Regions from separate parts of the Homo sapiens genome. Here regions 2, 3, 4, 5 and 6 are each linked to region 1. Evidence: fine-mapped expression QTL. A gene starts in region 1. Each other region holds a variant in brackets. All regions are shown on one strand. Distances are from middle to middle.

Region 1 (4,128 bases):
AAACAATGAAATGAAGGCAGAAATCAAGAAGTTCTTTGAAACTAACAAGAACAAAGATACAATGTACCAGAATATCTGGGACACAGCTAAGGCAGTATTAAGAGGGAAATTTATAGTGCTAAATGCCCACATCAAAAAGTTAGAAAGATCTCAAGTTAACAACCTAACATCACCACTAAAAGAACTAGAGAACCAAGGCCAAGCAAATCCCAAAGCCAGCAGAAGAGAAGCAATAACCAGAATCAGAGCTGAACTGAAGGAGATAGAGACATGAAAAACTATTCAAAAGATCAATGAATCCAGGAGCTAGTTTTTGGAAAAAATTAATAAAATAGATAGACCACTAGTTAAACTAATAAAGAAGAAAAGAGAGAAGATTCAAATAAACACAGTCAGAAATGACAAAGAGGATATTACCACTGAACTCACAGAAATACAAACAACCATCAGAGAATATTATGGACACCTCTATGCACATAAACTTGAAAATATAGAAGAAATGAATAAATTCATGGACACACACACCCTTCCTAGAAAAAAGGGATAAATTCCCGGACACACATACCCTCCCAAGACTGAACCAAGAAGAAATTGAATCCCTGAGTAGACCAATAACAAGTTCTGAAATTGAGGTGGTAATAAATAGCCTACCAATCAAAAAAAGCCCAGGTCCAGACAAGTTCACAGCTGAATTCTAGCAGATGTACAAAGAAGAGCTGATACAAAGGCTAGACACAGTGGCCCACACCTGTAATCCCAGCATTTTGGGAAACCAAGGTGGACAGATCACTTGAGCTCAGGAGTTTGTGACCATCCTGGGCAACATGGCAAAACCCCATCTCTACAAATAATACAAAAAATTAGTAGAGCATGGTTGTGTATGCCTATAGTCTCAACTACTTGGGGGGGCCAGGCAGGAGTTTGTGACCAGACTGGTTGACAAAGTGAGACACTGTCTCAAAAAAAAAAAAAAAGAAGAAGAAGAAGAAGAAAGAAAAAGAAGAGCTGGTACCATTTCCATACATCTTCTGAAGTCTAGGCAGGGGGTCTCAAACCTCAGTTCTTGACTTCTGGGCACCCACAGGCTCAAGACCACATGGAAGCTACCAAGGCTTGGTGCTTCCACCCTTTGAAGCAACAGCCCAAGCTGTACCATGGCCCCTTTTAGTCAGGGCTGGAGTGGCTGGGACACAGGGCACCAAGTCCCTAGACTGCACACAGCACAGGGACCATGGGGCTGGCCCACGAGAGCATTTTCTCCTAGGCCTCTGGGCCTGTAATGGGAGGGGCCGCCATGAAGACCTCTGATATGCCTTGGAGACATTTTTCCCATTGTCTTGGGGATTAACATTTGGCTCCTCATTACTTATGCAAATTTCTACAGCCAGCTTCAATTTCTCCTCAGGAAACCGGTTTTCTTTTTCTATCAAATTATCAGGTTGCAAATTTCCCGAATTTTTATGCTCTGCTTCCCTTATAAAACTGAATGCCTTTAACAGCACACAAGTCACCTCTTGAATGCTTTGCTGCTTAGAAATTTCTTCAGTCAGATACCCTAAATCATCTCTCTCAAGTTCAAAGTTCCACAGATTTCTTGGGCAGGGGCAAAATACCACCAGTCTCTTTGCCAAAACATAACAAGAGTCACCTTTGTTCCAGTTCCCAACAAGTTCCTCATCTCTATCTGAAACAGCCTCGGCCAAGACCTTATTGTCCATATTGCTATCAGGCTTTTGGTCAAAGCCATTCAACAAGTCTCTAAGAAGTTCCAAACCTTCCCACATTTTCCTGTCTTTTTCTGAGCCCTCCAAACCATTCCAGCCTCTGCCTGTTACCGAGTTCCAAAGTCACTTCCACATTTTCAGGTATCTTTTCAGCAGCACACCACTCTACTGCTACCAATTTACTCTATTAGTCCATTTTCTTGCTGCTGATAAAGACATACACAAGACTGGGCAATTTACAAAAGAAAGAGGTTTATTGGACTTACAGTTCCACATAGCTGGGGAGGCTTCACAATTATGGCAGAAGGCAAGGAGCAGCAAATCACATCTTACATGGATGGCAGCAGGCAAAAAAAAAAAAATGACCCTGTTCAGGAAAATTCCTGTTTTTAAAACTGTCAAATCTCGTAAGACCCATCACTATCATGAGAACAGTATGGGAAATACCCACCCCCATGATTTGATTATCTCCCACTGGGTCCCTCCCACAATACATGGGAATTATAGGAGCTATAAGATGAGATTTGGGTGGAGGCACAGAGACAAACCATATCACATGGAATCAACCTATATGTCCACCAACAGTAGACTGGATGAAGAAAATGTGATCAATATACACCATGGAATACTATGCAGTAATAAAAAAGAAAGAGATATGTCCTTTGCAAGAACACAGATGGAACTGGAGGCCACTATCCTTAGCAAACTAATACAGGAACAGAAAACCAAATACTGCCTGTTCTCATTTATAAGTGGGAGCTAAATGATGAGAACACATGGACACACAGAGAGGAACAACACACACTGGGGCCTTTCAGAGGCTGGAGGGTGGGAGAAGGAAGACAATCAGGAAAAATAACTAATAATTAAATAACTAATGGGTATTAGGCTTAAGATCTGGGTGACAAAATCTGTACAACAAACTCCCATGACACAAGTTTACCTATGTAACAAACCTGCATTTATACCCCTGGACTTAAAATAAAACTTTTAAAAAATAAACAAATGATAATAGCAGATTATAGCCCATTAAATAAACTAGGAATTCATGAGTTCAAATTACATAAACAAACAAATAATTATTCCTTACATAAGAATGCTAATTACTGTATGCAGAAGGAAAGGTAGAATTGGAAGGTCATTATTTGGCAACTATTATAGTAGTAGTTGATTGAAGAAGAAAGCATCAAATGATGCTGAATCTGAGTGAAGGTTTGATGACAACCAACATGGTCTCAAATTATCTCCCCACAAAGTGCTGTTAACTGCAAAGGGGAGATGAGTTACTTTGCAGTCATAAATGTTGTATCACTGGGCACAGTGGCTCATGCTTATAATCCTAGCATGTGGGAAGCTGAGGTAGGCTATTTTCTTTTAGTAATTTCATGGCTTGTGGTCTTAGATTTAAGTCTTTAATCAATTTTAATTTGACTTTTGTATATGGCAAGAGATAGGGGTCTAGTTTCATTCTTCTGCCTATGGATATCCAGTTTTCCAAGCCCCACTTATTGAAGAGACTGCCTTTTCTCCAACATATATTCTCGGTACCTTTGTTGAAAACAAGTTTACTGTAGATGTATGAGTTTGTTTCTGGGTTCTCTATTGTGTTTCATTAGTCTATGTGTCTGTTTTTATGCCAGTACTATGCTGTTTTGGTTACTGTAGCCCTGTAGTATAATGTAAATGACAAGTTAACCAGTGCAGCACACCAACATGGCACATGTATACATATGTAACAAACCTGCACATTGTGCACATGTACCCTAGAACTTAAAGTATAACAAAAAAAAAGAAAAGAAAAGAAAGGAACAGAGGAAAAGGAGGAAGGAAGGAAGGAAGAAAGGAAGGAAGGAAAAGAGGGAGGGAGGGAGGTTGTATTAAAATGAGAAAATTGATTAGTTCACAAATTATGCATTAAAAGGCCCACAGTTTACTAGATCTATAAATTCCTCAGAACCCCTAAATACATTGGCTTTTTAGAATAAGTGTTAAATACACACACACACACGAACACACACAACCCACAATACAACTGATGTGGCCTTGTGGAAGGAATACGTAAAGCTATTTGCATTATAGTGCTAATTTAGCTTTTCTTTACATTGAACCTTAATAACCAGAATCTGCTTCTTTGTAACTTCTGTCCATTTATCCAGTTTCCACCCAAGGAGAGAGAGCAAGTCTCATTGCTCAACTATTCTAAATCTGCCACCACGATCCCCTAAATCTTTTCCAGGCTGAACACTCCAGATTTCTTCTACTCTTCCTTAACTGATAGGACTTTAGTTCTCTTGGCTGCTTTTCTCTGAAGTATCCCATTTTGTCTGAGACAGTACTGTGACGGTACTATGATACCTCTGAAACAATAGTATGGTACCAGTGTCTGAGCAGAATGGACTGGCAC
Region 2 (4,128 bases), 43 kb before region 1:
TATCTCCTAAGTTAGATGCACAGACTAGCTTTTACTCACAAACAAGGATGAATACACTCTACCCATGCATCTGTGGCAACCAGACACTATAGTTCCAAGGTAGAATTATTACATAAAGTTGAATTTCTTTTTTCCTAAGCTGCTTGGGGTTGTAAGTAGAACAAAAACCTATATTCTGAATTTAGAAACTGGAAAAGCAGGTATGCTAAAATACAGAACATGATGGACAGCATAGCATTAATCTTGTTTTTGGACTTATTTCCCTCATGGAAAATTTCTTCACAAAGAGAGATTTACTGAGGGAGAGTCCAGTCCCCATTGTGCTATAAGAAATTCAGGAGCTTAGATAGAGGCCGTGTAACAAAGTTAGGATATTTGGTTGTGATGCAGGGCAGGGGGTTTAGGAGATCTAAAAATCATATTAAAAATTTAAAACACTTTGATTTATCATATATTTGATATATGATTTATCAAATTAGCAAAACATTTACTTTTAATAATGCTTGAAGCTAATACTGCAGCTACAGTAGTTATGAATAATTTAAATTTGAATTTACATGTTTAATCATTTCTGTCTTAAAAAATAGCAAAATGCAATGTTAGGTTGACTGTTTCTCTGATTTCCATGTAAATTACCAGGGTTAATAAATTTGCTTGTCACTTAACAGAGTCTAGAATTATTCAATTACTAAGTATTTCTTCCTATGTTTTTGTATTTCTCTTATAAGGTCTTCTGGAAGAAAAACTCTGTAGTAATATAATACCTGGCTCTTTTGACATATTGGAGTAAAGATTACATTTTTAAATCTAATAAAAAACAGATTATTTAAACAAAAATTAAACCTTGAATCCAACTATCTTATTTCAAATGTTTGTTTTCTTTACTTTTACTGTTAATAACATCATCTTAGAAGCTTAATAAATTTTCCTTTGTGTTTTGCTCAGTGCATTTGACATATTTGTTTTAGGTAAGATCTCTTTCAATTTAGTTGAGATTCCTGTTCTCTAAAGGAAATGGGCCAGGGAAAGGTGAGAGGGGAGTAACAGAGCTGTCTGAGGAATTGTAGAACTTGAGATGATAAAACAACAGGTGGTCAATGAGTTTTATAAACCTATACCTGAGTACAGACAAGAAAAGCTGTGCTCTAGAAGAAGACAAGCCCAGAGGTCATCAGCAAGTTGTGCTGTCTCAAGAGCTCTGTGTCAAGGCGGAAAATGTTCTCAGATACCAAGAAGCTGACCCAAGCCAAAGACCACACTTAGACCAAACTTTTATGACACATGGGCTTCATCCTGTTACTATACTTTTCCCCTCACTTTTCCATGAGGTACCACCAACATGTTCTCTTATTCACTTATGTATTCATTTAGCACATGCCTGTTGAGCATGAAGTGTGTGCAAAGCACTGGGCCATGCACTAACGCCATAGGCATGGCTAGCCCAATGCCTGCACCTTGAGCCCCTTATGGAAGTCAGCAACCTGCACATGCTCAGACCCCTACCCACACCAGGAAAAAGCACACTGTCTCCCTCCAAGTGTCAACATCAAACAAAAAAATTCCACAGAAACCACTTAAAATCAGAAGACAAAGTTGAAGCCGTATATGTTGAAGTTGTCATTAGACTTGCTGCCTGTTTCTCTTTAGCAGTTTAACCTTCATTCTGGTAATCAATCCTTTTTTTATTTATTTCAATATCATGGTGCCTGGACTAGGACTTATATTTTCATAGCTAATTACAAATATACACATATTTCCTTAAAGGTATATAAAATTATTATCTTGGCCTAGATAAGTTTAAAACCCTTTATGCTTAAATTCCCCTATGGTTCACTGGAAGTGCTGTAGCCAGTGTCCTCAAGGTAGTGAAGAACCATGATC[G/A]GCCAGAGTAGATGCAGGAGATAACATGTGCAATGATGAAAACATCTTTGTTTCCTTACCCTGCACCAGGCTTCGTGCCGTGTGCTGGGGCTAGAAAGATAGATTTGACCACAGGATGAAAATAATCACAAGTTAAATTCCTGCCTCAAGTTTCTCATGCTTTCTCAAAGCACACAGACACATCAATGCTAACCATGCAATCAAATGGACATATAAAGATACATATGAACTGGATACTGCAAAACGGAAGCATTACAAAATTGATCTGAAAACAGGAGAGGGGTCAGAGAGAGTTTCACAAAGTAGGCGACAACTGACTCAAATCCCATCAGACAAGTGGGAGCTTTCTAGATAAAAAGAGTGGAAAGGCATTCAAAGCAGCGAAATAGCCTATTGCATTTGGAGAATTGGGGAGCAGTTTGATGTGGCTACAATAAAGATGTGGCAAGGGATCAGGCTGAAAGGTAAGCAGAGATAAGATCCCAATGAGCTTTGAATTCACCACTAAGGATAAGCTTGAGTTTGGGGTTGGAGAATTACATAATTAATTTGGGTATGAAGCTAGAGGTATAAATTGGGAGTCTTTGATTTATGGGTTGAATTTGAAAGTGCAATACATTATATAGAGCTTGTGAGTCAGAAGAGAGGCTGAGAATCTAACTCTTTTGAGCACCATCATTTAAGAAGCAGGAAGAGAAATAAGAGTCCACAGAGGAGTTTTTAAATGAGCAGCCAGAAAACAAGAAGAAAATCGTAAATGAGGAAGAAGGCACAAAAAGGGAGTTTTGAGAAGGAAGTCTCTAGCAGTGCAGTGAAGAGGTCAAGTAAGATGAAAACATAAGATTCCAATAGACTCACCAAGCAGATGATCCCGGGTAGAACAGGAGAGAAGTCAGATTGCAGGAAGCTAAGATAGAAATAACAGATGAAGGAGTGAAGACAATTCAGCCTTGCCTCATAAAGAAACATAAGGCTAGAGAGGACCCAGGAGCCATGAGGTTTTGTTCTGAAGATAAATGAAACTTAAGCATTACACCAGGGGAGAGGAAGAAGTTCAAAATATGAGACTTAAAGAAGGTCACTGCAGAATTGAAGTGTCAAAGGCAGTAAGAGCAGACAGGACTGCAATGTCAGCAGAACATTGGACTCTAAGAAAAAGAGACGAAAAGAAAAACAGGTGCAGTTGAAGACTATTCTAAAAAAAAATCAGTGTTAAGTGAACAGTGTTTATTCCTCCTAGGTCTGGTGAGAAGAAAGGTCTAGGGTAAGAGACATTAGGAAAGTCATAAAAGTTGGAACAACTTGGCATAGGAGATAGCAAAGGAAGTTCAACAAAGGCACTTTGGAGGATCACTGGGTGGTTTTGAGGGTCTACTTAGGATTAGAGATCCTACCTTTTTCTAATGACATTAATCCACAATGCTCTGGGTTTCCAAGAATAAAAGGAGAGATGAATTGATCCGGGTTTGGGCATCGCATGGCAAATGGGCAAGAGAGTTGAAGGTGCTAGCAAGAGAAGCTTAAAAGATGTAGGTGGAAAAGGGAAGGAAATTAATCTAGCTGATGTATGTTACTCAGAAGGCAAAGGGAAATGTCAAGGAACTAGAAGTCTTCACAAATTCAAAGACCAAAGAGGATGAAACTTAGAAAGTGAGACAACTGTTAAAGACAAAAAGCAGTAGTTCAGAAATAGATGAGTTCCTAGTTCCTAGTGGTGACCAGATCCAAGGTGTGAGCATGAAAGTGAGTTCTGGGAGCAGAGTGAAGGTATAGATATTGGCATTGAGATAAATGAACTCCAAGCTACTGATTGTGCATACCAACTGTATGTTTCTCAGGGCTTTATTTATTAGATGCCAAGCATAACACCTCTAACAACCCTATGAGATAGAAACTATTATTTTCATCATCCTCATTTTACAGATGAAGAAACTGAGACACAGAAAGATGAAGCAACTTGCCTAAAGTCACACAGCTATACTAGAAGGACTAGGGATTTAAGCCCAGGCAGTCTGGCTCCAGAATTCTTGCTCCCAACACTACACTACACAACTTTCCCCAGAATGGCACAGTAGCATCTTGGAGCTATAAGCAGCATGGCTCAAATCAGGAGATTTTTGTAGGAAGGTGGAAGATGAATGATCACCTAAAATGTAACTTAATGCCCTCCCTAATATCTGCAGCATTAGTACTGCATTTATTGAGCTTCCACTATGTGCCAGTTTGTGCTATTTTAAAACAATTGAT
Region 3 (4,128 bases), 88 kb before region 1:
AGTACTCTAAATACAATGTTTTGTGAAAACAGGTAAGTTTTATGTTTGTGGATTAACCAGGCTGGTTTTTAAATTGTACTCTACAGATCAGAAGCGATCAGTGAGAACCTCTCTTTCTACATGTAGTGCTGCCGCTGGGAAGAAATCGGTCATCATGAATATTCATTGGACACCACCAAGTGCTACACCAGACTGAGATGGAGAAGGAGAAAGAGAAATGGTCCATCAAATTAGAAGAAAAGCCCTTTTCATGATTTATGAAAAAGAGAACTATTAAACCTTATGCACTACAAGATTTTATGTCTTTTATGTCAACCTATGAATAACTTTTCCTCTGCAATATTCCAATTTTATTTTCCCTTTAATAATACAACTTTTAAGTACTAAGGATACATAAGATACTTTGTATTAATGATGCTTAGTCAGTCATGGATGCCTGACTTATTAAGGAATACTCAAAATATTCAAATATTTATGTTAGTAAATCTGCTTCAGACTACAAGGAAGAGTTGCTATCTGACTGCTTATGCAATGCTGCTCTGTCCACTACCTTCCTGTCTTTTTTTAAATTAGGTTCTATTGCCCAACTTGCCTGTTTTAAACATTTAGCCAATGTCCTTGAAGTGTTTTCATCATTATCAAGTAAAAATCTGAAAATGAGAATAGTATTAGTATCTACAGCTCTCTATTTTTGTCTTTAACTTATCATGCACCTATTTTGTGCTATTATATATATTCAGTATCTTGCATATAACCTTATTTAAAGAGTATAGCATCATTGTAAAGCAGATACATTAAGGTGTCTGTTTTACAGATGAAGAAATCGAGGTTCAGCAAGGACTTGCTCAAAGTCACACAACTGGCAAGTGACAGAGACTGGATATGAACTGAGTCAGACTCCAAATTTTGACTCAAAAAAGACACTACCTTTGTGCTCTATAAAGTGCATTCATTAGGGCCTTTATCATGCCAGTCTGTCAGCAATTGTGTTCCCCCTGGCTCGGAGCCTTTCCTCCACACTTCAATCAAATAGAAATCCCTCATTGCAGTTGAGAACTAAGTGGAGTTACTGGCCCAAAGCATTCAGGTTAGCTCTATGGATAGTTTCCAAGTTGACCAAATCGTAACTGACCTGTTGAGAGACACAGGTGATTCAGGAGATAATTTTTTTCATACTATACTGGGAGGTGAATGGTAAAAAATACCATAGGATGAGGGAAACAAGGGGAAAATGAACAAAAACGATATCCATTATAACTACATAAAAAGAAACTGGCACACCAAACATCAGTGTTATTATGAAGAACTATTCACCATCTGAATCTGACCACAGTTAGAAAACCTGCCACATCACAAGCGCCTTGGATAATAAAAACATCTATTTCAAATGTTTTCCTAAAAAGCATTTTGAAAGAATAAATAAGATTTCAAAATAGAAAAAAAAATCTAACTGCATAAACTGAACACAATGCTGAATGCTATCCTCATCCAAACTGTCTTTCCTTTATCTTACTTATCACCTTCAATATACAATAAAAGTTCAGCCACAAAATCAGCTTAGAAAGGAGAATTACCTGGCCTAACTGCATAGATTGATTTGATAGTGAGATACTTTCCTGCAAAGACATTTATGTGTTATCTGGAAGAACTTTTAGCTCTTCATTTTAAGTTTTACCAGCGATTGATTTATTATAGGAAAAAGATTCAATTTTTCCTCTTATGCTCAGCAATGTGATTTTTTTAAGAAACAACAAGGCGAGCATGAGAGTTCGTGTCTGTAATCCCAGCACTTTGGGAGGCTGAAGTGGGTGAACCACTTGAGCCCAGGAGTTAAAGATCAGCTTGGGCAACATGGTGAAACCCCATCTCTACAAAACACTTAGCTAGGGGTGGTGGCACATGCCTGTCATCCCAGCTACTTGAGAGGCTGAGGTGAGAGGATCATCTGAGCCCAGAAGATCAAGGCTGCAGTGAGCCATGATTGTGCCACTGCACTCCAGCCTGGGTGACAGAGATAAGAGCCTGTCTCAAAAGAAAAAAGACAGGTTCAGTTCAAATAGGAAATCAGCATCTGTGGTTTCAGCTGGATTTCCCAAGTTACAGGGTTCACCTTCTGAATATGCTGCTATTCTTCCTCTTTTT[G/GAC]ACGTTTCTGCACTTCCTAAGATCTCTAGCCCATAATCTTGCTCTAGAGACTACCATCTTTGAAACCTAACTCTCTCGTACTCTTACATACATTTTTGGTTTAGATGCTCATTGCCTAACTCTCAAACTAGAACTCTTGTTCTTCTTGAGCAAGAAATCTTTTCCTTCCTATTTACTTTTGTTTTTCCAAAAGCTGGCACAAAATTAGCACTTAAAAATAACTTTTGGCTAGCTGACTATTTCAAGAGTTCCAAATGACTTGGACGGAGACACAATTTTAAGTCATCAAAGGTCCATGACAACATATAAACATTGGACTGTTTCAAGATGGAGGTCTGACTGGTGGTTTTTCTTCCCTTTTTTGGTGCAATAGAATTTATATATTTAAACATTAGGTCAGTTACCTAAAATAAGTTAAACATTAGACCAGTAACCTAGAAAGAAAACTTGTTTTGAGGTTGCTAGTAATTTGGGTTCCAAGTTTAATGAGCCAATAAATCAAATGCTAAAGAACAAGATGATTGAATTTGAGAAGACAGTAGAAATAAGGATGTACCCCTTAGAGAAACAAAGAGTTCCCCTAGATAAACAGAAGAAATGGACAAGGAGCAATAGAAATGGGGCAGTGAGTACAAGGCAACCTACAAAGTCTGGAAGTAGTCCTTAGGAAGTTGTTCAAGGAAGGTAAAGGGCCACAGCCTGATAGGAGTTGAAAGAGTAACTGACAAAGGACCATTAAGCCCAGAAGCTGACTAGAAAGTGAGTTGCTCAGGCAGAATGCCCAGCCCTTACTCTCAGCAAGAATGTCCCATTTTGTGTGCCCAGCAATGACACCAATTGTTCTTATTGACCTACATGCTCAGAACTTCACTTCGTTATCATCCAGCACCTCAACCACTGATTGCCCTGTGTGGACTATTTTCCTTAAACCTCATCAGCTTGTGCTAATGTACTCCAAGAAAGGGAGGTGGGACTGTGGACATCTGGTGGGTAAGGAAAATTATCAGCATATCTGGCAGGTAGGAAGAATTATTGGTACATCTGTACTGTGTGGGATGAAATGAACAAAGGGTGGTAAGATCCCTACTCTACTGGCATCAAAAACAGTTGAACCATCTATTCTCAAGTGTGGAATCCTTGAGGCTTTCAATGTAACAATGTCTTTGCAACTTCCTAGTGAGGCTACTCATCAAACATGGTAGTTTAAATATACCTGCTTTATTCTATTCCATCCTAAAATATCACCAGAATAATAACAGAATAGTAAAGGGGATAACAACAGATAAGAGATATTATAATTTTGGAAGACAGAAAGTAGATGGGCCAGTGTTAACTAGCAAAGCAGAGGAAATGAAACCTAAGTGCGTGGAACTGGGAAGCCACTATACAAGGAAGCTAGTTGGTGCTCCAGAATCCCAGGAAGCATGAGGAATTTGAGAAACTGCTTACTACAGAGGGTGAAGGGTGAAGAGTGGGACTAAAAACAAGAGTGTGGCTGAAAACCTATATAGAGGACAGTTATCTTCCCACCCTTTCACCCACCCCATCCAGCCAGAAAACTTCTCATACACTATTTCATCAGGAAAGGAGAGGTTTACTCTAGATAATTAAACCATCGATCTCCTTCTCCCTATCAACTTGTAAAATACTAGAAGTCGGAAAATTGGGGAATTCTTTTCTGGAGAGCTTGATCAGCTCAAGGGAAAAGAACTAATATTGAGAGCTGGGTGTCTTCTCCCACATAAACTACTAGATCTTTGCCCAATCAATAAGCCCAGCCAGATTTTAGTGTCTCAGTCAGATTCTTAGTGCCTCACTCTTTAAATACAAACAGTAAGCCAAGCATGTTAGCCTTTTGAGGAAAGCTTCAACATGAAAGACCTAAACAAACAAACAAAAATTTTAACAAAAACAGAACTCAGCAAAGAAAAGCAATATGGAGAGAAGCAGCAGTCATTTGTAATAAATAACCTCACAGGAATTAAG
Region 4 (4,128 bases), 140 kb before region 1:
CCTCTATGAATATTATTCCCCTAAGTGAGCTTTAGGAAAGAGTTGAGCAGCAGGGAACTCAAGGTTAATGTTTCTGTCAGGAACCTAAAAAGTAGATTGACTATGTGGTTGATTAAGACTAGAAAAAAGTATATGCATTTATTCCTACACAACAATGTTGCAGGTAGTTACCCATTGTTCCTTGAAGGCTTTTTTTCCAATGTCCTTTACATTTTCCTAATGGTATCAACTCCACCTTTCTCCTTAGCACATTGGACTCTCCCTGTAAACAAGGTGCTTCTTCTCTGAGCTAGAGCAGATAGCCAGACAAAGATGGGACAGAGGAAAGAGATTGCTGAGCAGAGAGATGGTGTGGATGAAGGTTTAGTGGTGAAAGCAAGCAAGCCTCTATGAGGCTACGCATGACAGTCACTGGTCTAGAGCAGAATTCGAATTGGGAACCAGAGAGAAAAAAGCTGGAGATGTACGCAGAAGCCAGAGATCAGGGAGGAGCTTGTTAAAAAAGATATTGGTCAGCATCTACTTGACTAATTAGGAGCATTGATGGTCCCAGCCTCAACCTGACTCTATGTTCCCTGTGCCATTCTGATATGAATCCTGTCATTTCTTGGTATTTGACCTTGACTTCTTTTTCAAAGGCCTGGTGTTATTTTCAGTGATACTGTCTCTATCACTTCTGGGCAAATACTTCTGACTAGGTCCTGCCTGGCACCCTCCTCCTCCAGCATTTCTGTCTCAGCAAGTGGCAACCAGCAAAACTGGCACCAGATAACAGGAGATAACTGAACATTTATCAAAACATATGAAAAAGATGTGTTACTGAAAAAGTAATGTCCAGAGTTTACTGTTCCTCTCTCTTGTGTGTATGTTTTTTTAAGTCTTCAGTGGAAATGACTGAATCTTTATTAGAATCAAACCTTAGTTATCTCCTGGAGGAGTATTCATTTTGCATGAAAGGACCAGAAGTATTCCCCGGCTTTTCATGTGTTGAATGTGTACAGCTCACTTGGAGCTGGAAGGGCACACAACTTGAGAAATCTGCCTTCTCTTTAAATATCCAGATCTAACCACAAAGAAAACATTTAAAATAAAAATAGGCACTCCCATCTTCTCCTTCCCAAACCATATACACTAAACAATCGGAGAATCGAGGGCAAAAGTAAAGCTCAGTATAAGCAAAATAGAGCTTCACACTGTGGAGGAGGAGTTGCATAAGCAAAGGGAAGAATTAGAAAATGAGACAATTTTCCATGTTCTTCTGAGTTCTCCTAATGACTTTATGATTGTATTAGAACCATTATAAAGCCCAAAATAGCTCATAACACAAGTGCACAAAATGGAGATTCAGTCGGGTATGTTTCCTTTATATTATCCACAATATTCCTTCCCTTAATTTCCATGGCTAATGGAGACTGGTCTAGGCTTTTATGATATTGTGCCTCTATCACTAGGGGATACTACTATAAAAGAAAAAGTTTAAAGGTGAGATTAAAAATGAGAAGCAACATAATAAACATTATCTATTCTAGAAGACTAGTAATATTCCAAAATTTGAAAGGTTTCCCAAAGATTACAGCAACTATCAGACACAGTGCCAATGAAAACAAGCAAATTGCTATGTATTCAGGGTGTATACAAATCATGACATCCTCAGAGGAAATTACATGGAAGCCTGAATAATAACACATAAAGCTAAGAGAAATTTGAGTCTCTGACACACATATCTCCTCTCTTTATATTTCACCAAAGTTGTACTTGTGAAAAAACTTGGGAAAAAAGTAAAATGATGAATTGAAAAAAAATGATCGGCATAATTCCTGATCTAAAATACGTATTTCCCTGCAATACCTAGACAATTCAAGTAAATGGGTGGGTGGATGGGGGTTCTTTTTGGTGTAAATTACCTGCATAAATGCCTTAACACTCTACTTCAAAGTGGATAGGTAGACTAAGCCTTCATATGCATGATACAGTAAGATGATGAATTTCCTTAATTGACAATATCAGGAAAAGAAGAGTGACCTAGAAGTGTATGCCCGTCCTGTGCCATCTAGATTTCATTCCCAAGTGCTTGGCTACCCTAACTGCCTATAATGCTTCCAAGTCCTTGTCTCTCTTCCCCACTTATTCCCTTTGAATATGTATGTATAATAAGGGCTAGGACAAGAACCCTACTCTGAACACTAAGTATCAGTTATACCTGCTGTAACCTGCTGTTCTTCATGTAGCCCCTGAGCTTGTCTACAACAACAAAGTACATCAAATTGCATTCATATATGTGTTAAAAGATAAAGTTAGACACATTCAAATATTGAAGAGTCTATTTATGAAAACAGTGATACATGAATCATACAGCACCAGACTACAAGCAGCTCTGGAAAGGATTTCACAGGGTAAATGCAGAAGCAAGGCAAAGAGTACATTCCAGCAGGAAGTTCCAGGTGAGAAGTTAGTTGGCTGTTTCTGATTGGCCTAGATAATGACCAGTT[G/A]CACTGATTTAAGTTTTGGTTTGCTTACCTAGGATCCCAGGACACTGGAACCACCTCAGTCCAATGCCTTCCCAATTAATGATCCTAAGATAAGTAACATCAGTGAATTGAAAATAAAGCAACTTTCCAGGACAACCTTATATTGTAGGAGGAAGGAAGACTAGAGAGGGGCATAAGTGGAGAGCAAGGGCTGAAATTATACCTAGAAGACCCTTGAGATGGGTCCCCTAGATCAGTGGTCCCCAACCTTTTTTGGAACCAGGGACCAGTTTTGTAGAAGACAATTTTCCCACAGACAGTAGACACAGGGGATGGTTTGAGGATGACACTTGTACCTCAGATCATCAGGCATTAGATTCCCATAAGGAACATGCAACCTACATCCTTCCCACGCACAGTTCACAATAGGGTTGGCACTCCTATAAGAACTAATGGCTCTGCTGATCTGACAGGAGGCAGAGCTAAGGACATAATGCTTGCTTGCCTGCTGCTCACCTCCTGCTGTGTGGCCTGGCTCCTAACAGGCCACAAACTGGTACTGGTCCATGGCCAGGGGTTGGGGACACCTGCCCAAGATGGTAACCTAGAAATGACAGATATGACAGAAGACCACACTGGGCAGCCTGCCCAACACTTACCAAAACAAACTGATATAAACAGAAATAAATGAAATAGAAACTAGAAAAACAATAAAAAAGATTAATGAAACTAAGAGTTGGTTTTCTGATAAACCACACAAAATTGACAAACCCTTAGCTAAACTAAGAAAAATGAGAGAAGACTCAAATAAAGTCAGAAATGAAAGGGAGACATTACAACTGACAGCACAGAAATCCAAAGATCATAACTGCTATGAATAATTATATGCCAACAAACTGAAAAACCTAGAAGAAACTGATAAATTTTTAAAAACATATAACCTACCAAGACTGAACAATAAAGCAATTAGAAATCTGAACAGATCAATACAAATAAGGAGGTTGAATTAGTAATTAAAAGTCTCCCATAAGGGGACTTCCAGTTCCAAAATGGCAACACAGAAGCAAGCTGGCTTCACTTTTTCCCACAGAAAACAGAAAACAAATATGCAGTGCTGAGATGATCACCAGCAATAGTCTAGAACTCATATATGAAGATGAGACAGATCCTAGGGCCACAGGGAAGTGAAAAAACTCCAAGCAGGTGACAGGAAAATTAATCTTCCATATCCACAACACCCCTTCCTCCATTCTGCCTAGCACCAAGCATGTGGGAAATTTTTCACCAACTCACAGTTTCTACACTAGAAAAAGTGAGATCGATGTGGACAACCAGCTTGCCCATCATCTTAAATTCCCTGGCAAGAAAACTGTCTCTGCCTTAACCCACAGGAAGATCATGAGTGTGTGAAGGGAGTAACATCCCTGAGGACAGGCAGAGGATGCAGCAGTGGGGGGAATACCACCTTCAGCCCTGAAAACTCTACTCTGTATCTCGGCCAGAGCAAATGCCAAATCAGAGTGGCTGTATGGCAGCAGCATGCTGTAGAAAGTGTGTTCCACAGGTCTGCTGAGCACCAACACCAAGACAAGGAAATGAAAAGCTGGTTTTCTGAAAAGATAAACAAAATCAACAAGTTTTAGCTAGACTAACTAAGAAA
Region 5 (4,128 bases), 38 kb before region 1:
TCAGACTCATGTATTCTTTGTAACTACTTGATATCCCAACATGGAGATCTTACAGACATCTCAAAGCCTCACGTTCAAAACCAAGTCAGGGCCGGGCGCGGTGGCTCAAGCCTGTAATCCCAGCACTTTGGGAGGCCGAGGCAAGAGGATCACGAGGTCAGGAGATCGAGACCATCCTGGCTAACACGGTGAAACCCCGTCTCTACTAAAAATACAAAAAATTAGCCAGGTGTGGTGGCAGGAGCCTGTAGTCCCAGCTACTCAGAAGGCAGAAGGCTGAGGCAGGAGAATGGCGTGAACCCAGGAGGCGGAGCTTGCAGTGAGCAGAGATCGCGCCACTGCACTCCAGCCTGGGCGACACAGTGAGACTCCGTCTCAAAAAAAAAAAAAAAAAAAACAAAAAAAAACCAAGTCAGAGCTGACCCCTGAAGGCCATGCCTGCTCAGACTTGCCCTTTCTCATGCTCCCTCTCCCTGGAAATGCTCCACCATCCACCCAGTAGCTCCAGGCTGCAATCTGAGCATCATCTGATTCTGTTCTTTCTCCACCGTCCATACCTAATCCATGCCAAGCCCTGCCTGTGCCCTATAAGAAGATCCTCATGTTGCCTTTCAATTCTAAAGTCTCGGCTTCTTAGAGCTGGCATTCAAAAGAATTAGCACATTTCAAAACCCTCTACTAAAGTGTATCTTAGAGATTATTTATAAATGAAGGGTTTGATCACAACTATAAAAATATTAATAGTTTAAAGGCAAAGAATATTCCTAAGAACACTCAGTGTTACTAAGTTTTAAAAAAGAGATACATGGTAAAATAAGTTTGGAAAATGCTAGATTAAACAGAATTAAGGTTTTCACTGTTGTCATTGCTGTTTTAACTCCAGACTTCTCAGAGTTTTTGAACAATCCTCATGAATCCATAAGAGGAACATGACCCGTGTGTCACATATTCACCACCCTCTGGTTTATTCTATCAAAAGGGGCCCAGAGCCAACTTCATTCTTATCTGGGCCACCCTCAATTTCCCTAAGGACTGCCATTCATTTTATATCTTGTTTTCATCTGGAACTCCTGAACTCCTGTTCCTTTTCACATGACATTCCTCTTCTTCTTGGCATCAGCTGTAGGGTAAATGTGAAGTTTACCACATATCCTTAACTGCTCTTTATTTCCCACAAGAGCACCAAACAAGTTTTCATAAAAATATCAGACTTTCCCAAGGGCTTGGAGAGGCAAGGAGCATTACGTCATAGCAATTCAAACACCTTAGAACCGAAGATTAGATATCTCCATTCTTAAAAATCCTCTCCTCCTCTCCACCAGAAACCTCTGATTGGCCACCATTGTCCATTTATTCCAGAGTACTGACAGATTGCCTAATCTCTCTCCTTCTTACTCCCTTCCCTCTCTTCTCTACTCTTCTTGGCTTTTCTCCTCTCTCAAACTATACAGTATTTACTTTCAATGCATATCAGATTGACTATTTATTTGATTCCTTCTTCTTTTTCAATCCAGCCAATCTACTCCCAACTGCTTACCAAGTCATTTTTCTAAACAAAGCACTTCCTTCAATAGAAAAACTGCAAGATATGGCTTCAGCTACCAACCTAAAATAATTCAGCATCTTATAGTCAGCAATTGAGTTCTTTTGAAGGGAAGTGTCTTTGCTTAGAAAACTTTGATTGTGACATCCCTTTATTTCAGAACATATTCTAGAATTTCTGTTTCATAGAATTCTTCTTGAATCACAAATTTAAAAAAAAGACAAGACAGAAACAAATTGACATCTCAGGGTAGGTGAATGTTGGGAAGTGGATGTAAAGAAAAATCAACCTGCTGCTTATATAATTGTCATGCAACCCAGGACCTCATGCCATGCCCTTACCCATCCCTGTGGGTACAGGAGTTGTCTCAACAATGATCAGACCAGCAATCTGATAGCAAAAAATACCCTACTGATTCTCCTCTTTTCTCCCACCTCATCCTCATGCACACACATGCATACAAATGCATACACCTTCCCAGGTTTTTCCCACAGGGCTCTCTGGAAGTCTGCTCAGCAGTGTCTTAAACTCCTGCATTACAGCAGGTTGTTGCCTGAGGTCCCAGAATCACTCAGGTCTGGATGGACCACAGCCCAGTGTGCTCAATGCCACTGTGTTCCAGAATATGTTGCTGAGACATCACTCAAGCCACCACGAACTCCGCTGCACCTCTCCTATCCGTTGGAGTTGTTGCTGGCCATGTTGTTACCCTCCCCAAATCACCCACTTTGACTCTGA[C/T]TGAGCATCAGTCAGCACTACAGCTTCTGCCCCTTGTACTTCCTCCTCTCTGCCAGTGCTCAGCTTCTCCTCAAGGTTCTGATATACCTCCCTCTTCTCAACATTGCCTGTTCTTAAAGGAGCCCCTAAGCAGACCTGCTTTTTTCAGCTGCTATGAACCTTTTGGGATTTTATGCTGAAAATTCTCTCTTCCCAGAGGCATGTGTGCCACCAGGATGGCTAGTCCCATGGTCATTTTCTCAGGGCTGCTATAGAGCAGAGAAACAATTCATGGGCCAAATCTAGCCTGCCACTTGAGTTTGTAAAGTTTTATTGAAAAACAGCCACACCAATTCACCTACACATTGTCTAGGGTTGCTTTCTACTGCAATGGTGGAGGTGAATAGGGTGACAGATAAAGACCTTGTAGCCCACAAAGCTTAACATATTTACTTTTTGGTCCTTTTCAGTAAGTATGTTGATCTCTGCTATAGATGAAACAACAGAACTGTATGATTCCTCAATTTAGCCAGCATAATTTGAGGAGCATCCCCTTGGTGCACACAGACCCAGTAATCTTATCTGGAAAACTAACAGGATAAATGAATCAAAGGATAAAACACTATTCTAACACATGCCCGGGACACTATAGGCCATTCTGATCATGAAAATTAAATAAACAAATAAAGCAAATTTTTTTTGGGAGGGAGTCTCGCTCTTGTTGCCCAGGCTGGAGTGCAATGGCACCATCTCAGCTCACTGCAACCCCTGCCTCCTGGGTTCAAGCATTTCTCCTGCCTCAGCCTCCCGAGTAGCTGGAATTACAGGCACCCACCACCACACCCAGCTAATTTTTGTATTTTTAGTAGAAACAGAGTTTCACCATGTTGGCCAGGCTGGTCTCTAACTCTTGACCTCAGGTGATCCACCCACCGCAGCCTCCCAAAGTGCTGGGATTACAGGTGTGAGCCACTGCACCTGGCCAAAACAGGTAAAAATTTAAAACTGAATGGGAATAATAACCCCAGGATAAAGATCCCGACTATCTGTGGGTAAAGGGAAAAGAACATGTTCAGGGACGGGTAGAGAGGATTTCAACTGTATTTATAACAAAGGTTTCTTAGATTGAATGGTAAGTACAAATGGATTCATTTCTTTCCCTATGTTACATATCTTCCAGATCTATTCCCCCTTTCTCTGTCCTGCTCTGAGCCACAGGAGGCTGGCTATTTGACCTCACCAAAGGGCTCTTTTGCCTCCTGTTTTCTGACTGGGTCCAGCAAATAGACAACTGCAGCAGGACAGGGAAGAAAGACAGGGTATTTATTCCCCCAACTTCCTGCACACTGAATGTGACCCTTGAATGAAAGCCACAGCTCTTAGCAGGAGACCGCCACACAGCCATCTCTGACTCCAGTAACTGCTTCCTCCCCAACTCCTTGAATTAGCCATCTATTGCTACATAACAAGTGACCCCCAAGAACTGCAGCTTAAAACAGAAATCTTTTATTATCTCAAAGTTCCTGGGTGCTTCTTCCTCAAGGTCTCTCGAAAAACTGTAATCAGGGTATTACCTGGAGCTGTATTTTCACCTGGCTCAACTGAGGGAAGATCCACTTCCAACTCACTCATATGGTGTTGACAGGATTCATTTCCTCACAGATTGTTGGACTGAAGCATCCCTCAGTTTCTTCTCATGAAGGCCTTGATATAAAGCAGCTCCAATCTTGGCAGCTGGGTTCCCTCAGAGCAAGCAAGACAACCAGACAGAAGCCATTGTTGTTTTGTAATCTAATCTCAGAAGTGACATCCTATTACTTTTAGCGTGTTCTGTTTATTAGAAGCATATGACTATGTTCAGCCTACAC
Region 6 (4,128 bases), 33 kb before region 1:
ACTCATTTCTGGGATATCCATCCATTAGATAAGAGATGCAGACATAATAGCCAAGAAATAAGTCTAAAATGCATGGAAGTTTTTATCCTTAGTTATTGAATGAGTTACGTATTTCCTAATTTTCTGCTGAGCCTAGAGAAGAAAATGACCAATCACTTTGGAAAGATATTGATGTTTATGAAGTATAGCCTCTGAATATCTCAAATGGAAAGGAAAGACTATATTTAAACCAAGGAAAAAATTTTACATGAGTACAATTTTATTGCTAGGGACTAACTTTCATATATAATGATTGCTTACACATAAAAATTCATCTATGACATTAAATACCAACTATATAATTCAATTAACTTTATTTTTCCCTTATAATTATCTGAAAAATTTATTCTTTTACAGTGAACAAATTCTTCCCACTCTTCTGAGCAACCATCTCAAAATATAGTAAGTACTGGCCATTTAAATAAAATAAAATTCCCTAAGTAAGCTCATCATTGGTAGTGATGACTCACTACTCTGTTTATAAGTAGGTTATAGTTGAGTAAACACTGTCAACACAAATAAATCACCTCAGACCATTATGTTGAGAAGATCATGGTTGTATTAACTGGTTTTCATGTATGCCTCATTACTTCTTTTTCTGGATTATTCATTGAGAGGGAGCACTATCTATTTAATTTTTTTAATGTCATGGAAGTAAAAGATGTGTGATGGGCACAAAAACTCTCCTGTGAATGTTAATGTTAACTTTCACTTGATTGAAAAACTGCAGTGTAATTTTTACCTGAAAAGAAACTTTGCCTTGAGTATAATACCTTCAAATTATGTAGAGCTTTTGTCCCTTAGAGTTCACATCTCCTCAATACCTAGAGAGAGATAACTGAGCTACAGAATAATAAGCTGATATATTTGAAAGAAAATGCTGGTACATTTTATTTAATCAAAAGATTTTTAAAATGACATTATCAGCTCTTTCAGACAAAAAAATGACTTCTTTGAAATTGGACATCAAACAAAAATTATACAGTGAAATTCCATTATAACTAGATAATTTTTTTAAATATCCACTCCTTCACCGAACATATATTGGCTCACCAAATATTTACTGAGCCCAACTATCATGGGCTAGGCACTGTGCCAGGTACTGGGAATACACAGATAGAGGACATAGTCTCTAGCCTCATGATACTTAGAGTCTATAGAGAAAAAGGTAAATAGATTACTAAAATATTGAGAAATAAGGACTCTAATAAAGGTGTACATTCCGCGATAGTCTCTCATTACTGTTGTAATGGAGTTGTGTTGTAGTCTTTTTTCTTTTTTTTGAGAGTCTCCCTCTGTCGCCTAGGCTGGAATGCAGTGGAACAATCCCAGCTCACTGCAACTTCAGCCTCCCGGGTTCAAGCAATTCTCTTTCTCAGCCTCCCGAGTAGCTGGGATTACAGGTTCCCACCACCACGCCCAGCTAATTTTCGTATCTTTAGTAGAGACAGGGTTTCACCATTTTGGCCAGGCTGGGTCTTGAACTACTGACCTCATGATCCACCTGCCTCAGCCTCTGTAGTCTCTTTTAACAAGAGCTAAGACATTTCTTTAAAACTCTTTTGGTAATGATCTTACCTTGGAGGTGCGGAAAGAAAAGGTATCAGTCTATGTTTGGGGGATTTTCTTATATACCATTAATACCCTTGTTTGAAAGAAACAATATGCTGATGTCCTAAAAATCTGATGAGAGAACACTGAACTGATGAGCAAAACTTGACAAAAATAAAGTTTTGATAACCAAACTCTACCTCCTCAAGCAATTAGAAAGAAATGAATCAATAGGAGATAAGCCCACTCCATTCTACCCTGCAGCTCAGTGTTAACAACAGCCTTGAAGTTAGAGGACCAGTGAGGAGTTTATGAGTGTGTGCATGGAGGAGGGGAATGGGGATCTCTGTGAAGTCTGAGTCCCAGTCACAGAGACATTAAATCTCTCCCATTCAGAACACCTCTAATCTTTTCTCCTCTAACACCCCTACATTGGAATTTTCAAG[G/A]TGTGGGACAGAGATTACACAGCCAAGTCAGCCTCCTCTCAGCTGCTTTCATTCTGTGAGAGAAAAGGCCCCAGCTGACCCTGAAAGTTTATAGTCCTGATCAGGATGGGCAAACAAGAGGTGGATCTGTCCACAACACCAAGTCAATCAGTTGTTTCATGCCTTTGTCAAGGAGCTGGTGGAAAGACTGCTGAAATTGGTCAAAATACATAAATATTTAGGTTGGTGCAGAAGTAATTGTGGTTTTTGCCATTACTTTTAATAAATTACTAATAAATTAGTAACCCCTTAGAAAAAACTTGACCAGAAGTCATTCTACAATAGGCACTTACCACATTGCAAATGTATTCCTGTTACAGGGTAGGGACTGTTATAAACTGAAGGTTTGTGCCCTCTCCCCAAAAAAATTCATATATTGAAATCCTAACCCCCAAAGTGATGGTATTAGGAGGTGGGGTCTTTGGGGCATAAATAGGTCATGTAGGTGGAGCTCTCCTGAATGGGATCAGCCTTATAAAAGGAACCCTATAGAGGTCTCCATGCTCTTTCTGCTACATGAGAATACAACAAAAAGATGGCAGTCTGCAACCTGGAAGAGGGCCTTCACCAGAAGGGGACCGTCTTGGCACCCTGATCTCAGACTTCCAGCCTTCAGAACTGTGAAAAATAAATTTCTTGTTGTTTATAGGCCACCCATTCTATGGTACTTTGTTATAGAAGCTCAAACTAACACAGGGGCCAAGTCTTTTCATCATTATGTCCCCAGTGTCTGGTACCAGTTTGTTTTCCACTACATGAGATGCTTCAGAACTTGATCGTGTTGAAATGACTGAATGAGTGAATGGTTCCCTAAGGGATTTATACTAAAGTCAAATATTGGCTTCTGGTTTCCTTATTTTATTTTTAAGCATAGGTATATAAGACAAGTGAAATAAAGACCAACTTCACTCTTTCAGCAGAAATGGGACAGGCTAGAATCCCTTCTGACCCAACTAGCCATGCTATCCTGAAATGACCTCAGGTTTCCTGTACACTTCTCTAAGTGGTGAAACATGCTCAGCATCTACCAGGTCCCAGATCCCATGAATGACATTAATTGTTTCCATAAGGTTTATTCAAAAAGGGGAGTGGAAACTGGGATTCTTCTCTTTACTACTGGCATGTTATAATGAATATGAATTATATGAATAAGTGGCAAGGTATGGCTCTCGGCATACTCTAATGGTCTACTACAAAATCAATAGGAATATGGCCAGAATGTGACAACATGGAAAATAATAAACTTCTAATTGACTCAGTTTTTTCACCTTTGCCCTGAGAACCATGATGAGCCATGAAATCCCAGAGTGCCCACGCATCACTGCAAATGCTACTGGACCAGGGCATCTTATTCTTTTTTTTATTTCCTCCCCTGTCTTCTAACCCCAACTCCATCCTAGGACCTAAGACAGTTTCCAGAGCACAGTAAATTTCAAATATTGTTCAGATGACTGGCATTTCTTCATAGCTAATATGTTATGGGGGAAATAATATCCTTAGAAATCCTCGTACATTGAAAATCTCAACAGGCCAAGAAGTGATAATTCAGATGAAGTCTACACTGAAAAACCACAATAGAGAGAACCAAACATCTCATTATCTGAAAGTAACTGCTTGAGTCTGCTATAAATGTATTTTTGTAGGGTTTCCTTAAAACTTTACTGCATGACATTTTAAAATTGAAAATAAAGCTATTTTAAATCATTGAAATTCAACTGCCCACTTGCTCAAAGAAGATATTTATACAGTTATTTGTTTCTCCAATAGGAATAACTGGCTCACTGCATGCAGTATTCAATTCTTTTGATGATATTTCAGTTTCCAAGTATACCTAAAAAGTAGAATGATCTGGCATTTTATTGAATTCTTTGATTCTATATAGGCTCATATGAGTATCACCTTTTTTTTTCTGTACTATAGATATCATTCATATTCGCCAAGGTAAGAAATTGGGTTAACCCTAGTTCACTTTTTTCTTCAAAAGTGATGTCTTTTAAATATCGGGACAAGAAATCTATATTTGAGTTTGTTATTCAGCATGGCTTATAGTTTC

What was found. PIP is the estimated chance that this variant, and not a neighbour inherited with it, causes the effect.
Region 2: its variant is fine-mapped to the expression of LINC00639 in whole blood (TOPMed, PIP above 0.99).
Region 3: its variant is fine-mapped to the expression of LINC00639 in whole blood (TOPMed, PIP above 0.99).
Region 4: its variant is fine-mapped to the expression of LINC00639 in whole blood (INTERVAL, PIP 0.92).
Region 5: its variant is fine-mapped to the expression of LINC00639 in whole blood (TOPMed, PIP above 0.99).
Region 6: its variant is fine-mapped to the expression of LINC00639 in whole blood (TOPMed, PIP 0.91).

The regions. Positions count from the first base shown.
Region 1 is chr14:38,914,792-38,918,919 of GRCh38, forward strand. It overlaps LINC00639 (long intergenic non-protein coding RNA 639), which reads right to left and starts at 2,091. Exons shown (of 5, transcript NR_039982.1): 1 at 1,991-2,091. All of the region lies in intron 4 of LOC105370457 (a long non-coding RNA gene), which reads left to right.
Region 2 is chr14:38,871,432-38,875,559 of GRCh38, forward strand. All of the region lies in intron 2 of LINC00639 (long intergenic non-protein coding RNA 639), which reads right to left. Among named protein-coding and RNA genes, the nearest start is that of LINC00639, 43 kb to the right of the region's middle. The variant G/A (reference allele first, on the strand shown) is at 1,882.
Region 3 is chr14:38,826,542-38,830,669 of GRCh38, forward strand. All of the region lies in intron 4 of LINC00639 (long intergenic non-protein coding RNA 639), which reads right to left. Among named protein-coding and RNA genes, the nearest start is that of LINC00639, 88 kb to the right of the region's middle. The variant G/GAC (reference allele first, on the strand shown) is at 2,143.
Region 4 is chr14:38,774,571-38,778,698 of GRCh38, forward strand. All of the region lies in intron 4 of LINC00639 (long intergenic non-protein coding RNA 639), which reads right to left. Among named protein-coding and RNA genes, the nearest start is that of LINC00639, 140 kb to the right of the region's middle. The variant G/A (reference allele first, on the strand shown) is at 2,490.
Region 5 is chr14:38,876,950-38,881,077 of GRCh38, forward strand. The region is part of intron 2 of LINC00639 (long intergenic non-protein coding RNA 639); the gene reads right to left. It overlaps LOC105370457 (a long non-coding RNA gene), which reads left to right and starts at 1,781. Exons shown (of 5, transcript NR_135256.1): 1 at 1,781-1,792. The variant C/T (reference allele first, on the strand shown) is at 2,282.
Region 6 is chr14:38,882,200-38,886,327 of GRCh38, forward strand. All of the region lies in intron 2 of LINC00639 (long intergenic non-protein coding RNA 639), which reads right to left. It overlaps LOC105370457 (a long non-coding RNA gene), which reads left to right. Exons shown (of 5, transcript NR_135256.1): 2 at 397-441. Among named protein-coding and RNA genes, the nearest start is that of LINC00639, 33 kb to the right of the region's middle. The variant G/A (reference allele first, on the strand shown) is at 2,037.